Regions from separate parts of the Homo sapiens genome. Here all the other regions are linked to region 3. The links come from fine-mapping of genetic effects on gene expression. A gene starts in region 3. Each other region holds a variant in brackets. All regions are shown on one strand. Distances are between the middles of the regions. Region 1 has its middle 18 kb from the start of LINC00544. Region 2 holds the start of LINC00544 (long intergenic non-protein coding RNA 544). Region 3 holds the start of UBL3 (ubiquitin like 3). Region 4 has its middle 33 kb from the start of LINC00544.

Region 1 (4,166 bases), 100 kb after region 3:
ATTGTATTAGCACACACATTGCTCCACCCAGCCTTTCTTTGAATTTTTTTTTTTTTCATTCAAAGTCTCCAAAGGCTGAAACAGAGACTATAGGTCTCAGGAGAACATCCGTAATACCAATTCCTTCAGTGGCAGTAGGTTAGAGTGATTGTAGTAGAAGCCACACGATCTTTAAAAATAATTGCTTTGACAATGATGGATATAGGAATGGACAACAAAATCTGCCCTCCTGTTACCTTCTTGCAAGTATTTGCTGGTTTAGATAACTTGCAAGTTATTTTCCCCAGGCCTGGTTGGTCTCAGCCAGGAAAAACCTACTCACAGCAATGGCTCTGGCCATACTGCTTAGAAATTGCTGGTGCCAAGGGATGTGATGATGGTCTATGTGCTTTTCTCAACATCGTTTTTTATGCCAACATATCAGAAAGATAATATTCTTGTCCTGGTGTGCTTAGAAAGTAACTCTAGCAACTAAACTATAATGATGAGTACAGTAAATGGGTCACCCCTTTCTTTAAAGAGAAAATTGCTCAAAGTTCTCTGGGAAGTATGGGGGTTTTCCATGACTAGAATGAATCCATGGTTTTCTTAAGAAAAAAATCTAAAGAAATACAACATAAAGCATGCAAGGAGTCTATGCATTTCATGGCAATCTTAGCTCGTTCTGGGAAACAACTGTTGTTAGTAAAGCCTCATACGATGCATTCATTCAGCCATTCAACAAATATTAATTAGGAATTGACTTCTTCCACAGTTTGTGCTTGGTACTAGGTAAAATTAAAAAAGAAGCAGAGCCTGTAATCCTAGCACTTTGGGAAGCTGAGGCCAGGGGATCACCTGAGATTAGGAGTTCGAGACTAGCCTAGCCAACAATGCAAAACTCCATCTCCACTAAAAAAAAAATACAAAAATTGACCAGGCATGGTGGCAGGTGCCTATAATCCCAGCTACTCAGGAGGCTGAGGCAGGAGAATCACTTGAACCCTTGATGGGGTGGTGGGGGAGAGGTTGCAGTGAGCTGAGATTGCACCACTTCACTCCAGGCTGGGCGAAAGAGCAGAACTCTGTCTCAAAAAAAAAAAAAAAAAAAAAAAGCAGAGATGTTGTCTCAACCCAAGCTGGGCTGCTGAAACTGAGGACCTTACATTCCAGTGGGCAGGCACCGGGTACAGAGGTAGAGCTTGGGTTCCAGTGACAAGCCAGAAACTAGCTTGGGATGACTCTGAAGAATACCCTTACGTCAATATAGCTGGTATTGTACCAACACATTTAGGTCCAGAAATTGATTGCGCAATGGCATAACGGGGGAGATCTGCTTTAATTGCCATCAGTTCTGTTTTCAAAATATCTGGACTTTTTCTTCGGCCAAAAGCTCATGTGATCCAACAGAGTAATGCAGTCGCTTTAAAAAGCGAATGTAATTGTAAGCTCCATTAAATAAAAATACCGTGTCCAGATAATAAGTAACAGTAACACTATATGCTGGTCAGATGATAATTGGAAAATAATGTTCGCTACAAGGCATTATAATTAAGATGTCTCATTTAGAAAGGCAGGGTGGAGGTGCTGAGGGCTTTAGAAACGGTTCCTGATCTAGGCTGGCCGGAGGCTCTGAGTGTGTTTAGCTTGGAAGAGAGAAAACAAGGAACTATCTTCCTGTCTTCAAATATTGGAGGAGGTGTTGTGAGGACGAAGGAATAAATCGGTTTTATTTTAGGACAAGACAGAAGAGGAGCAAAGAGTGAGTAAATGTCAAGGGAAAGACAGAGGAAGTAAATAAGGAAGGAAGTGGCAAGGAGGTTGATTTTGAGTTCAATAGACGAAAACAACTTGCTGAAAAAAGCTTTCTAACAAACTAAAGTGCTCAGAATTGGAAATGGCACTCTCCAACAATGGAGAGGTCACTGTCACTTCTCAGAATGTAAGCTACATGGTCATTTGTCAAGGACCTTGAGTTCCAGCATCAGGTAGAATGTTAGCTGTCTAAGTTCTCATTCATCTACAGGACACGGGGCTTCTGCGATGGGCCGGGCTTGTCCTGCGGAGACTGTCGCCAAGGCAGGAAGTGGAACACAAGTACGTGGGCTCCTTGAGCAAAGTGCTGTTAAACAGATGGGACACTCTAGATGCATTAGTTAAAGCCAAGCATGTTTCTAGACACTTCTAGAGAAGGAAACTTTCCCTAACGTCACAGCGGGGTCGGGGGTAAAATGGGCGGGTCTTCGTGAGAAGTGAGCTCCTTCTATGACAGGTATGAAAGAGAAAGCTCGCTGGTTCCAGGTGACAGCTCCCATCGAAAATTCCAGGAGCTGCTCTGGAGGAAATGGTGCTGAGATTTGCAAAGGGCAAAGAACAAATGATGCAAGAGA[C/A]GGAGGAAATATGGACTCGGCCCAAACACAGTCCCGTCAGGGGCCGTCTGTGGGAATGTGCCGCTGTTCTTGTGCTATTTCAGCGCAAAATATTTAGGAAATAGAGAGACACACAGAATGGCAATTCAAACTGATTCATCTACCTGATTTAAAAAAATAAAATATTGCTTCAGCTTAGTCCAAAATGTAACACATGGAGGTATAACCTTTTAGTTAAAAAATCATTCTTTTTCTTACCATACTGAGAGATCTTTGCCGGTAGAGAAAATGTCCTGTTTATTTTGGTATCCCTAGAGTTTAACATAGAGTCTACATATAGCAAAAGTTTCAATAAACATTTAGTATACCAAACAGAAATGTGATTTTTGGATGGCAGAGGGGTTGAGATATCTGGGCAAGAACAAAGTGTGATTTTCACTTTCTCTGGTCTTCTGTTGTCCCAGCAAAACCTCCCTCTGCTCCAAGGACAGCAGGATGCCCTGAGCTCTTGGTTGCAGCACAGCGTCCTCTAGCCCCCTCCATGGCACCCTCAGCTGACTTACTCACTCATGCATTCAGCAAATGTCCTTTGAGCCCCTACCATGTGCTAGGCTCCATGCCAGGGCTGGGTTATAGTGACAGAAAGACCAGTAGGATCCCTGCTTCCTGCAACTCTTCCTCTGAGTCTGCATTGGTGGGAGTGATGGCATTGGGAGTTGAGTACCTGGCATCAATTAAACAGAAAAAAAAAGTTTCTTTTAAAAATTTCCAATGGAGATGTGAAAGTATATATATATATTTTTTGAGACGGAGTTTCACTCTTGTTTCCCAGGCTGGAGTGCAGTGGTGTGATCTTGGCTCACTGTAACCTCTACCTCCTGGGTTCAAGTGATTCTCCTGCCTCAGCCTCCCAAGTCACTAGGATTACAGGTGCCCACCACTATGCCCGGCTAAGTTTTTTTATTTTTAGTAGAGATGGGGTTTCACCATGTTGGCCAGGCTGGTCTCGAACTCCTGACCTCAGGTTTTATCCACCCACCTCAGCCTCCCAAAGTGCTGGGATTACAGACATGAGCCACCTGGCCCGGCTGTGAAAATATTTTTTTAAAGAACTCTATTCGATAACCTCTGTGATTTGGTATTTATTTGATCCCAAAACATATCCAGATAACAAGTATAAACACAAACAAACAAACAAAAAACACTATGCCCAGAAATACTGATCAATCAGAAGAGGAGTTGATCCAAGCTTTAAGCACTTTTTTTATGTTAAAAAAGTCAGGTGCGGTGTCTCACGCCTGTAATCCTAGCACTTTGGGAGGCCGAGGTGGGTGGATCACCTGAGGTCAGGAGTTCAAGACCAGCCTGACCAACATGGTGAAATCCTGTCTCTCCTAAAAACACCAAAAATTAGCTGGGCATAGTGGTGTACACCTGTAATCCCAGCTACTCAGGAGGCTGAGACAGGAGAATCACTTGAACCCAGGAGGTGGATGTTGCAGTGAGCTGAGATTGTGCCATTGCACTCCAGCCTGGGCAACAGAGCAAAACTCCATCTCAAAAAAAAAAAAAAAAAAAAAAGTAAAATGAGTACAGTCAAACACCATTCACACTTGACTTGACCAAAGCCAGTATGATAAATATGAATTGTTCTCAGCTACCAAGCGTTGAGAGGATCACTCTCTACACCTGCTGCCTGCATGGCCATCAGTGCTTTCCAACAGGTTCACAAACAAGAGAGGTTTGAAAGCGTTGAAATTCTGCATGTAAATCGAGTCACCTTCTCACTAAAGGATTCATTTCAACTCATATCCTCAG
Region 2 (4,166 bases), 86 kb after region 3:
CAACAGAGCTGCTGAGTGTAGGGCGTGGAGGTTGGCTTCGCCATGGGAGCAATGCAAGGTGCCAAGATGGACGTGGTATTGCCTTTTATACTCTAGTCTTGGAAGTCACACCCCATCATGTCCACCATAAGCTAGTGGTACAGGAATTTGCAAATATCTGCTTGGGTTTGAGGAGGGAGGACATAGACTGCGCCTCACTATGAAGTCATGTCAATCATCAGTTGTGGCACAGGGTATGTAGTGGGGTTTATATTGGGGTCTGGGGAATATAAAGCCTGTGTCCAGAACCAAAGCACTGTTCTACCCCTACACAGAACACTCTCTATCCAAAGACCCTTTGGTTAGCATTGCTTTTTGCCATTTCGGCCTTGCTAAGGCATGAGAAATGTTGCCACATCCGTTGCATCTGCTACAAAGGCATGCTAGTAATTATCAGTGATAACAGAATGAAAAGAATACAGTTGGTTTTGAGCTTCTAACATATGGTATTGTTGGCTCTTTCTGAGAAGAGAGATCCTGCTTGTGCCCAAGGAATCCCTGAGGATCCCTACGTAGGACCCACTCATCCCACTGCTTTGTCTCTCTACTACAGGGCAGTCTGTGTCCAGCCACTTCTGGGAAGTGGAGTATCTGATTGGTTACCCTGTGTCATAAAAGAGAGGGCATCTGAACTAATCTCTTTATGCAGAGTTTCACAGCACTTCCTCTGGGTCACACCCTCATAGCTCCATTCAGGCAAGGTATAGATTTGAGTAGAAATATCTGTCCTGAGCATCGAGGTACCGCGGTGATGCAAATGTAAGCCCCAGCACAGACAGCATGTCTGTGTTTCTAGTGAGCTGGCAGATGGCTTTTAAAGTCAAGTTACAAGTGTGTCCAGGCACAGGGACAGCTGTGTGAGCAAAGGAACACTTTTGTGCCAGGGAGGGAGAGAGGACCAGCTCTAGGGGGAACTATAGGCTCTGCAGGCTCAGAAAGAGGCAGGTGTGATGAAAACCTTCCAGGAGCACCTCATCACTCCGTTCAGGCCTCCTGACTCATTAGGAGATTCTGGTGACACCCCGCCTCCCTGGCTTCAATCTCTCTAGCTGTAAGCCTGGGGATTGGAAGACTTGGCACAGTCTTTCCTCCCCAAGGGTGCCGTGCTGATGATGTTTGCAGAGTGCATCACACTCCTCTGATAAAAGGTGTCTCCTGAGTACAAAGTATCATTGTCACTATATTCCACAATGTGGCTAAATATAGGTGTGCACCAATCTGCTGAAGAGCAGAGTGTCTCTTCAGCATTTGCCTGGGAGGAGCAAGTGGCCCAGTGGCTGCATAGGATGCAGCAGAAAAGAGCTGGCATGCAGCAGCAGTGTACCTGAGACCAGGGCATGGGGAGAGGGAAAGGCCCTGCATGCCCCCCTGGTGGGCAGCCCCAGCCCACTTGGTGACAGTGAGGCCTGAGTGCAGCAAGGCTGGAGTCATGCTGTGAAAGCCCACAGTAGCAGAGCCCCTGCCAGGAATATAGCAAGGAGATCACAGATCACAGAGTACATTGCACCTGCCCCATGCAGTGGCGGAGCAAGACGCTCAAGGGTCTGGAGTTAAGAGGGACCATTTGAGGTTAAGAGGGAAGGAGTCTCCCTTGTTTTGGTTTTTGTTTTTTGTTTTCCCACACAGTCCCAGAGGGTACTGTGGTGTTCTGACACACTCCCTGTGTCAGAGCTGTTTTTTCATTATGACCAAGACAGAGCAGGTGTGAGAGCTGAGCATCCTCCCCTTGCTGTGCTCCTCTGGTCTCCAAGGCACCCTCCCCATGCGCTGCTTCCTTCCACTTACCGCCCTCGCACGGCACCACATCCTGAGCTCTGCTTGTTCCCTCTTCAGACTGGCAGGTGGTTATAGAGGTGTTTGGGGTGTCAGCTCTGAAATGCTAAAAATAAAACCAGGCTTTCTATCCTGGGATGTCTCATTAGTTTGCTTACAAATGAGTCCCCCTGCAGTTTTTCAGCAATTGGCTAACAAGCTCTAATTTGAGCGTTTGGGCTGGACCTTGGCTCAGTGGGAGCAGACGCGGAGCAGA[C/T]GCCTTCTCGGAGCTGCCTGTTTGGGGAAGCTGGTCGTTTCCACTCTAGCTCAGCCTCCCAGAACAGGGAAGCTGCAGGAAAGTTGACAAAAGCACAGCAAAGCAGGGAGAGCCTCCTCGGTAGAGAGCAACGACCAGGTGGGTGTGGGTGTGGAGAGCAGTGGGGCCCACCTGGGCAGGTGCGGGGGGATGGGAGGAGGGGCTGAGAGTGCTCTCTAAGTTAAGGTCACGGTGTAGAGGAGAGGACTTGAAAACTTCCTGCAGCAGCTTCGTGGCCCGGTGAAATGTTCTCAGCAGCAAGCATGAAGCTCTGATTTGTAAAAAAATCAATACGGCTTGCATGCCAACTATGCCTTCTCCAATCCTGCATTTGTGATGTCAGAGGTTGTCATTCTGGGCTATGGAGCAAACCTTTCAGGGTTGACCCAGTCCTTCTAGGTCATGTGGAGTGGGCCAGCTTTAATGAACCTGTCTAAAAGGAAGGAAGAGAAAGAGCTCAGCTCCTTAGGGGAACAAGGTGGACCTTGGCAGCTGTCTCACTCCTCACCAGCTCTTCACCTCAGATCTTGTCCTGACTTCCTGGTCCACTAACGGCCTCCTGGATAGAAGAGTCAGGTAATGATCCCTGCCTTTCAATACTCATTGCTCAGTTTCAACAATCATCAACAATTTGCCAATCTCATTTCATCTCTCCTCTTATCTTTTTCCTTTTCTGGAGTATTCAGATCCTCTCACTTTCTGAGTGGAACTAAGAGTCTTCCTCACCTTCATCACCACTATTAGCTTATAAACCTCTTTTAAGGACAGGGATTCACCTCAGCTCAATTATGTTTTGTTACACACGTGGTACCCATCTTCTGTGTTGAGAGATGTTTGAATTATACAGTTTTTAGTGCATTAAGTGTTAGTGTTTGGGATCCAATTTGGCTCACTCTAGATGAGCTATAGAGTCTTCATTTTTTCTCCTCTCCCTTTTTCCTTCTTGAGTTAAAAATCACAGTTACCCAGCCTCCCCATACCTCCCCCCGCACCCTATATTACCACTTGTTTTTCTTTCTTTTTTCTAACCACACCCTGAGGCATTTCACCAGCAACTCTTTATTATCTAACCACAGTTCACCAGCCCAGGAGATGTTCTGAAAATTGACAATGATCATGATATACCCTGGATCCAGAATACTTCTCTATACAATGGGTGTGTATAAAGACAGACAGACCTGCCAGGCTCCATCAGGAAAGCTCTGTGTCTCCTTCACATGTGGAGGGACAGAATATTATCTGGAGATGGAGAATGCTTCTGAGAGCCTCTAGCACAGGGATCCCCAACCCCACAGCCTCGGGCAGGTCCCAGTCCCAGTCTGTGGCCTGTTAGGAACCGGGCCACACAACCGGGGGTGAGCGGTGGGCAAGTGAGCGTTACCACGTGAGCTCTGCCTCCTGTCGGATCAGCCGGTAGCATAAGAGTCTCATAGAAGCGTGAACTCTATTGTGAATTGCGCAAGTGAGGGCTCTAGGTTGGGTGCTTCTTATGAGAATCTAATGCCTGAGGATGAGGCAAAACAGTTTCATTCCAAAATCATCCCCCGGACCCCATCTGTGGAAAAATTGTCTTCCATGAAACCCGTCCCTAATGCCAAAAAATTTGGAGACCACTGCTCTAGTAGGCCTGCCTACTGGGCTTACTTTGTGTATATGAAATTGATAATTATTCCTCGTTTCAGAAATTTAAAATGTTACATTTATATTTCTTTCATATTTCCAACATTGTACCAAAGGTCAGTCCTAGAATGCTTTGTTTTAGCTGTTTTTCTTTCCTTAGGCAGAGAACAAAGATTGGTGGCTTCCTCCTGAGCACACTGGGATGTGGCATTACATCGGGGCTGCTGAGTGCCCTTACCTTCAGCTGCCCAGATGCAGAGGCAGGTGGGTGGGGCCAGGGAGTTTGATGCTTCACCTCCTTAAGTGAGAACTGCATCATGCAAACAGTCAGCTCTCAGCCAGATGGCACCACAAGGTTCTGTGAATTTCTCTCAGCACAACAAGCACATCTGCCAGTTGGGTTCCAATGCTGTTTTCTCTTTTCTTCTCGGCACTAGAC
Region 3 (4,166 bases):
ATAAAATTTAATCATCAGCAAAGTTCAATTTGTTTCCACTGAATACACAAACACTCAAATGTTAACATATGTGAGCACAACTACGTTAACTTCAATTCTTTCATAAACAGGATTATTCCTCTTCCTGGTAATTAAATGCATTATGTTTGTCCTTAGGACTGCAAAATGTAACTTCACACTCACACAAGCCCAGCCCCAGCACTGTAAGGTTACACGGTTACTGTTAGTCAACCGACTCACAACCTTACCCTTTATAAACAAAACAAAGAAAGGCGTCAATAAACAACAGTACTTTTTGTTTCAAGTTCTCAACACTCAGTGATCGAGGCTCAATACTATGTTTCCTTAGCTTTATGTCTAATATGGAATCTACTATTAATAAATATCTGGCATTAAAAAGCCCTGGAATATTCATTGTAAGTACCAATACAGGGTCAGCCTACGTTTCTGAAAATCCCAAAATATCTTTATATTTCTGTTGCCATCCGTATTCAGACATTTCAAAAACCTCACAGCAAATTCTAACATACTTTTTCTTGAAGAGATGTGCATCCCTGTTCTTGAAAAATATCAAGTTCGTCCCTACTGCAATGACGATCTCGTCTGTGTCATAAAGCAAGATTCCCGTTTCCCTACCTATTCTCTCGTAGGGACACCCGTCCTCAGCTCTGCCCACTGTCCCTGACGTTTTCAGAAACGTTAAAATACTAGTGTTCGGAGGCTTCTAGCGAAGAGGGAGATGTTTTGTCCCCTCAAGCTACCATGATACATTTCCCTACTTCTCCACTATCTTCAATGCTTTAGAAAACACGACCAAATGAGAGAACCCATATTAAAAGCAGTACTTCCTAAAAGGGGGAAACCAGAAGCTCCAACTTCTCCAAATCGCTCAGCACAGTGGCTTTTCGACAGTCCCCAGCAAATCTTCGCCCCACGCCTGCCGTCTTTCCGATTAAATAAGATTGGAAACCACAATTAAATCAGTGTCATAACTTATCCGTCACTTACCATATCCGCCGGGACATTACTGGACATCTTGCCGTTTGATATACACCCAGATGTTTACGAAAAAAACAAACAAAGAAAAAAGAGCAGAAGTCTTCACGTTACAGAAATAAACCACGATTTTGACTGGTTCGTGATGTGCTTTCTCCCCCAAAAATAAAGTTATTTTGGAGCCAAAGTGCCGGTCAGGCCGAGGTTCTGGTTCGAAGAGGAACAATCCCCAGGAGCTGTGTGGCCGGAGCAGGAGGAAACTCCCGGGACAGCAGAGGCAGCCCCCGTCGTCGTCGTCGTCGTCAACAGCAGCAGCAGCCCCAGGACCGGCCGCGCCAGGTGGACCGAGCCGAGTGACACACGGACATGGAGAGGGGTGGGAGGGGGTTAAATGCGCCTTCCTCCTTTCCCAGCCCCGGCAATGATTCACACTTGCTCCCGAGTCAAGTCCTCATTAAGCAGGAGAAAAATGCCCCAGCGTGGATGTACACAGATAACTATGTAGCTACACATCGACGCGTGAGCCTTGAGTGGCGGCCGAGCGGTGGCCGGACGCTGGCCGCGGACCCTGCAGAGCCGCTGTCGGAGCGCCCGCGCGGACAGCGCGGGGAAACGGCTCAACTCGCGCCGCGGGGGCGAAGAGCCGGGCCGCGGAAACCCGCGCTCAAGGGCATTTAACTAGTTGGAAGCCAAAGCGAAAGACCGGAGCGGGGGACCGACAGCGCGGGGGTGCTCGGGGCCGGCCGGGACACTCCACAGCCCCTCTGGGCTCAGGCCGCGGGCGCCTCCGGACAGCAGCTGGGGTCGGGGCGCATCGTCTCCGGCTCCTCGCCACTCCTCTTCTGCCTCCGCCTTCCCCGCCGCCGCCTCCCCGGTCTCCGCCTTCCCTTCCCCTCCCCTCCCCGGCCTCGCGAGCTCCGGGCGACGCCGACTTCGGCTGGTCCCCGGAAGAGGCCGGGTCCTCCTTCTCCTCAGCCCGGGAATGGTTTCCTCTCAGAGCTTTGTTTCTCCTCCTCCTCCTTCACTTTTCAGTCCCACACGCCGCGGCCGCCTCCTGTCATCGCCTCTCAAACCAACATGGCGGCAGCGGCGGCGGCGGCGGCTGCCTGAGTGCGACTAAGGGAAACGGGGAGAGCACGGGCCCCCCCTCGCAGCAGCCGCCGCCCCCGTCCTCGTCCTCCCTCCGCGGACACCAAGTGCGTCACCACGGAGACCATTCCCTCGAGCATCACGGGAAGTGTAGTCTACGAGGGTGGGGGGGGGAGGGAGCCGCCGAACGCCTCCTCACCCAGCTCCGAAGCCACGCCCCCCATAGCAACAGTTGCGAGGAAAGGAAAGCTCCCTTTCCCTTGCTTTGGACAAGCTGCTGCCCAGGAGTTAAGTGATACCTGCTACCAGGAGTGCTGTGATCATGAGAATTGTTGGGAGAAAATAATTCTGCATAGAGAAATTCCCTTATGCACGATATGCACACAGAGCTAAAATATGCTGTACCTCCAAGCAGAATCATTCATTTTAATTACAGCACATTCTCCACATCCTGCAATCTCAATGCATTTTGTAGAGTGATTTCATCTAGGTCTCCTCAACATTACATTTTGAAGAACAAAAGCAATCATTGATTTCCAATAAGGTCACATAAGTTCAACAGGAACAAGGATCTCATTAAGCAGTGAGAATATTTGAACATGTGTTTCCTTGAAGACCCAGGGCAATAAAGCTACAATCTACTTAACTGAAATTACCAAAACTGTATTACATACAACAGTGTTATTATATCAAATCTGTATCAGGAAATAGCTACTACAAACTTCATGGGGATTCACCAGTTTACCCATCTGGACCCTAAATTCTATTCTATGTAACTCATAATGTAATTGAAAACCTATATGCCTTGCAGTGATTAGCAAATAGGAGAAAATAATGCCATTGTTGAGACACCATTCAGATGGACATTTGTGATTTCTGCATTTTGTTCCTAAATCTGAGGTCAACATCTGAATCCCTATTCATATCTCTTAGTCCTTTGACAGAGTACTTTAGAAAGGGCAGTCTCAATATGATGCCTATATATAAATGCCAATGAATTTAGAGTCTGAAAGCCACCTCTCCAACCTACAGCTGTGTGACCTCATCTGTAAAATGGTCTTGCCTACCTTCCGGGGTAAAGTAGGGGTAGTTATGAGGATGAGTTCATGCATGGGAAATAAATCACTTTGTAAATAATAATGCATCATTTGATATGAAATGTCACTACTCATTCTCTCATTCAGCAAACAAATGTGCCAGGCACTCTGCTAGGCACTAGGAGTTTAAAAATGAGTCACTGTAGCGAACAGCAGCATCATGTGGCAGAAATGCCAAGGTCTTGGGTTGGCAATGGGGGTTATTACATCCTTGTCTATAGGGCTGTTGAAAAGAGGCAGAATCCAGTCACTGTCCTCAGGGAGCTCATTGTCTAGAAGCCTACGTGATTCCCCACAGCAATCTCTCCAGTTGGGTTTCTCATCAGTTGGAAACCCACAGGACATTTAGAGTACCTGCCTCTTGAGTAGCCTGGGTGGAGAAATTCCAAACACTCCTAAGGGCCTATATCACCCTGAGGAAGATAGATCAAATTCTCCGAAAAACCAAAGGCCAGAAGAGAAGAGAGGCCCAAATCTCACTGTGATTAGGCTTCAGGACTTTGTCTAGATATTTCCAAGTCCATAGTTACGTGATTTTCCATGGCCTTTGTTACTTGGTTGCTCATTTGCAATGTTTAGCAACCACAGAGTCCCCCTACCCCTACACCAGCCCCCCAGGAAATAAGGGCAGGTGAAAATACTTCAATTGACCAATGAGCTCAGAAGGAATATTGGAGCACATTTTGAAAGCTCTAACTCACAGAGTTAGTCCCTCCACCATACCCTTGACTCCAACTTTTATCCAATGACCTCCCTGGCCATGGCACTGCCTGGCCATGGCACTGCCGGGCCTAAGTGCCACTGTAAGTAGAAAGGCAAGAGTTGCTGTTTGCTGCAGGTTACCACTGCCACCTTTACAAAAGGCAATGTCTTTCAAAAGTCGCTGTGTTTCCAATTACTCTTCTAAGAGGGGCTGAGACATTATTCTCAATAAAACTCATTATAACTCATCCCTAACATTGTTAAGGCATGAGGTAACATTAT
Region 4 (4,166 bases), 120 kb after region 3:
AAAGTCACAATTACAGTTGGAGACTTCGATGTCTGTCTTGGAAAAATTAACAGAACAATTCAGCAGAAAACCAGCAAGATGTGTAAGAACTCAATGACATCATTGACCAACAGGTTGATGACATTTATAGAAGAGTCTACCTAATACCAGTAGAATACACATTTGTTGCAAGTGCTCATGAAACATATACCATGATAGACAACACCTAGGCCATGAGAGAAACCTTTAAGGAATTTGAAAGAATTGAAATCATGCAGAGTGAGTTCTCCAGCTATAATAGAATCAAACTAGACATAACCGTAAGATAACAGAAAAATCATTAAACATTCGGAAACTAAACAACACACTTCTAAATCTATGAATCAAAGAGGGAGTCTCAGGGGAACTTTAGAAATATATTGAATGAAAATGAAAATACAACGTATAAAAATTTGTGAAACACAACTAAAACAGTGTTGAGAGGAAAATTCATAGCACTGAATATATACATTAGGAAAGGAGAAAAAGTCTGAAATCAATAATCTAAGCTTCTGTCTCAAGAACCTAGAAAAAAGAAGAGCAAAACAAATTTAAAGCAAGCAGAAGGAAATAATAAAGACAAGAGCAAAAATCAATGAAATTAAAACTAGAAAAACAATTTTTAAAAATCAATGAAACAAACAGCTGTCTCTTCAAGAATATCAGTAAAATTGGCAAAAAAAATTCCCTTCTAGCAAAACTGACAGAGAGGAAAAGGGAAATACACAGGTTACTTGTATCAGGAATGAAACAAGACCCTGCAGATATCAAAAAGGTATTAATGGAATAATATAAGGGAATACTATAAACAACTGTAAACACACATAAATTTGACAGCTTACATGAAATGACCTAATACCTTGAAAAAACACATACTCCCACAAGTTAATATAAAATAGATAATTTAAATAGTCATATAACTATTAAGAAAATTGAATTCATAAGTCAAGTATTCCCAAAAAAGAAATTTACAGGACCAGATGGTTCCACTGGAGAATTTTACTAGACATTTAAAGATTTAGGACCAATTCTATACAGTAGATTTCTCCAGATTTTTCTACGTAGACAATTATGTCTTCTGCAAATAGAGACAGCTTTGCTTCTTTCTTCCTGATCTATATCTTTTATTTCCTTTTCTTGCCTTATTGCACTGACTAGAACTTCCAGCACTACATTGACACACATAGTCCCCAGGAGAACCAGAAAATGGGTCCTGAGGGAGCAAAGACAAGGCTCCAGTCACTGGGATACGTAGCAGGTTACTTGGTAAACATTTGCAGAATGAATGTCTAGTGTTCACGTCTTTCCTGGCACTCCTCAGTATGACCAATCCCATCACCAAAATAAATATCATTTGCATAGGTCTGGACTTGATGTGTGATGGGACCACAGCAAGGCCAGTTGTAGGGGAGGCCGAAAGTTTAATTCCCAAAAGGCAAAGATGTATTGATTTAGTTCAGGCAGGTATAGAGATCTGATCTTTCGGAAGCATTATGGCAGTGGACTTTCAAAAAACTCTTCTTGAAACCAGCAAAAGGGTAGACTCACTTTAGTGAGAAAACATCATACCGCCGCAGCACTCCATCAGCAGCTGTAGCAACCCTCAGAGGATACCTCAGAGTCACTAACGATCTTAAGGAAAATGCAGATTATAGAGTCCCGTTGAGTCAGAATCACTAGACCTCAGGTCCAGGATGCTACATTCTTAACAAGCTTTATCTCAACTACATTTGGAGAACTTCTGAGTCATAGAATTGAAGCATGACTCCCCTGCTTCAAGACAGGATTTTGGCATGAGCTAGATTGGACAACCAGGCCCCAGCCAAGAATATGGGATTTGAGGTGGTTTGCAGAGAGGATGAGTAAGAATTTGAAAGCAGGCATACTGTTGTTGTTGTTGAACGTACTTTGTAGTTGATTTTCTTGAATGTTTTTGTCTGTCCTTGACTTTTTTTATATTTTTAAAAATCAATAGATGTTATTTTTAGAATAATTTAAGATTTACAGGCCAATTGAGCAGAT[A/G]GTGCAGTGTTCCCTTATATCCTCTTCTCCTACACACAGTTTCCCCTATTATTAACATCTTGCCTTAGGGTGGTACAATAGTTACAATTAATAAACCAACATTGAGGCCAGGCACGGTGGCTCACACCTGTAATCCCAGAACTTTGGGAGGCCAAAGTGGGCGGAGATCAAGACCATCCTGGGCAACATGGTGAAACCCTATCTCTACTAAAAATACAAATATTAGCTGGGCATGGTGGCACACGCCTGTAGTCCCAGCTACTCAGGAGCATGAGGCAGGAGAATTGCTTGAACCCAGAAGGCATAGGTTGCAGCGAGCCGAGATCATGCCACTGTTCTTCAGCCTGGCAACAGAGTGAGACTTCGTCTCAAGAAACAAACAAACAAACAAAACACACACACACACACACAAAAAACAAATAAACCAACATTGATACATTATTATTAACAAGTTCATAGTTACATTAAGGTTCACTCTTTGTGTTCTACAGTTCCATAGATTTTCACAAATGCATGATGTCATGTATTCACCATTACGGTATCATACAGAAAAGTTTCACTGTTCTAAAAATTCCCTGTGCTTCACCTACTTATTCCTCTCCCTTTTCCCCCATATACCTAGCAACCACTGATCTTTTTATTGTCTCTATACTGTTGACTTTTCCAGAATGTCATATGGTTGGAATTATTTAGTATGCAACCTTTCAGACTGACTTCTTCCACTTAGCAGTATGCAGCTGACTTTCTTCCATGTCAGTTTTTGGCTTGATAGCTTATTTTTTTTATTACTGAATAATATTCCATTGTGTGAATGTACTAATTTCTTTATCCATCCACCTATTGAAGGTCATCTTGTTGGCTTTCAATTTTTGGTGATTATGAATAAAGCTGCTATAAACATTTATGCGTGTAGGTTTTCGTATGGACATGTTTTCAACTCAGTTGGATTACTGTTGAGGAAAGTGGTTCCTGGATTGTACAGTAAGACTATATTTAGATTTGTAAGAGCCTGACAAACTCTCCTCCATAATGGGTGTACAATTTTGCATTCCCACCAGCATTGGATGAGAGTTCTTGTTGCTACATATTCTCACCAACATTTGGTATTGTCAGTGTTTTTTAAAAAAATATTTCATTTTTATTGACAAATAATAATTGTATATATTTATAAGATTCGGTGTGATGGTTCAATACATGTATACATTGTGGAATAATCAAAGCAGGTTAATTGATACATCCATCACCTCACATAGTTACTTCTTCATGGTGAAAACATTTAAAATCCACTCTTTTAGCAATTTTGAAATATATAATACGTTATTGTTAACTATAGTCACCATGCTGTGCAAGAGATCAACAGAACATAGCCCTCCTGGCTAACTGAAAAGTGTTTTCAGTTTTAGTCATTCTAATGTGTGTAATGTATCTCATTGATTAATTTGCATTTCCCTAGTTGAGCATCTTTTTACGTGCTTACTTGCCATCTGTATAGCTTCTTTGGTGAGGTGTCTATTTAGATCTTTTGGTTATTTTAAAATTAGATTGCTTGTGTCTTATTATAAAGCTTAAAGAGTTAATTGTATATTCTGGATACAAGTCTTTTATCAGATATGTGTCTTGCAAATGTTTTCTCCAAATCTGTGGCTTGTCTTTTCATTCTCTTAACAGCATATTTTGTAGAGCAGAAGTGTTTAGTTTTAATAAAGTCCAACTTACAATCTTTTCTTTCATTGATTGTGCCTTTTGTGTTAATAAGAGCTAAAACTCAATAGGCTTATGTTTTTAATGCAGCCTTTTATATGATTCTGTTGTCTTTTCTATCTTAGAAAATCAATTATATGTCTTTTAATTTTTTTGTAAGTGGTTACCGTAGAGTTCACAATGTATGTTTACAATGAATCTAAGTTCACTTTCAAGTAATACTACATTGTTTCATGGACAGTTCAGTTACCTTAAAACAGACTATCCCAATTCCTCCTTCCCAACTCATAACATTTCTGTCATTCAGTTCACTTAATTATATGCTACAATCATCTGTGCCTTCATTTATTCCTTCTCTGACACTCTTCCTTTCTTTATGTAGATCTGAGTTTTTGGCCTGTATAATTTTCCTTCTCTCTGAAAAA

The links. PIP is the estimated chance that this variant, and not a neighbour inherited with it, causes the effect. A credible set is the group of variants that fine-mapping cannot tell apart.
Region 1: its variant is the best candidate, but not a certain one, in a credible set for the expression of UBL3 in whole blood (TOPMed, PIP 0.64).
Region 2: its variant is the best candidate, but not a certain one, in a credible set for the expression of UBL3 in whole blood (INTERVAL, PIP 0.51).
Region 4: its variant is the best candidate, but not a certain one, in a credible set for the expression of UBL3 in blood mononuclear cells (TOPMed, PIP 0.72).

What each region holds. Positions count from the first base shown.
Region 1 is chr13:29,952,492-29,956,657 of GRCh38, forward strand. No RefSeq gene overlaps it. Among named protein-coding and RNA genes, the nearest start is that of LINC00544, 18 kb to the left of the region's middle. The variant C/A (reference allele first, on the strand shown) is at 2,370.
Region 2 is chr13:29,934,019-29,938,184 of GRCh38, forward strand. LINC00544 (long intergenic non-protein coding RNA 544) reads left to right here and starts at 2,513. Exons shown (of 5, transcript NR_033889.1): 1 at 2,513-2,683; 2 at 3,184-3,263; 3 at 3,888-3,991. RefSeq lists enhancers at 797-856, 1,577-1,696, 1,827-1,946. The variant C/T (reference allele first, on the strand shown) is at 2,069.
Region 3 is chr13:29,848,504-29,852,669 of GRCh38, forward strand. It overlaps UBL3 (ubiquitin like 3), which reads right to left and starts at 2,114. Exons shown (of 5, transcript NM_007106.4): 1 at 1,009-2,114. The coding sequence starts at 1,035. RefSeq lists enhancers at 680-749, 1,220-1,289, 1,960-2,029 and silencers at 1,590-1,889, 2,160-2,269.
Region 4 is chr13:29,967,739-29,971,904 of GRCh38, forward strand. No RefSeq gene overlaps it. Among named protein-coding and RNA genes, the nearest start is that of LINC00544, 33 kb to the left of the region's middle. The variant A/G (reference allele first, on the strand shown) is at 2,041.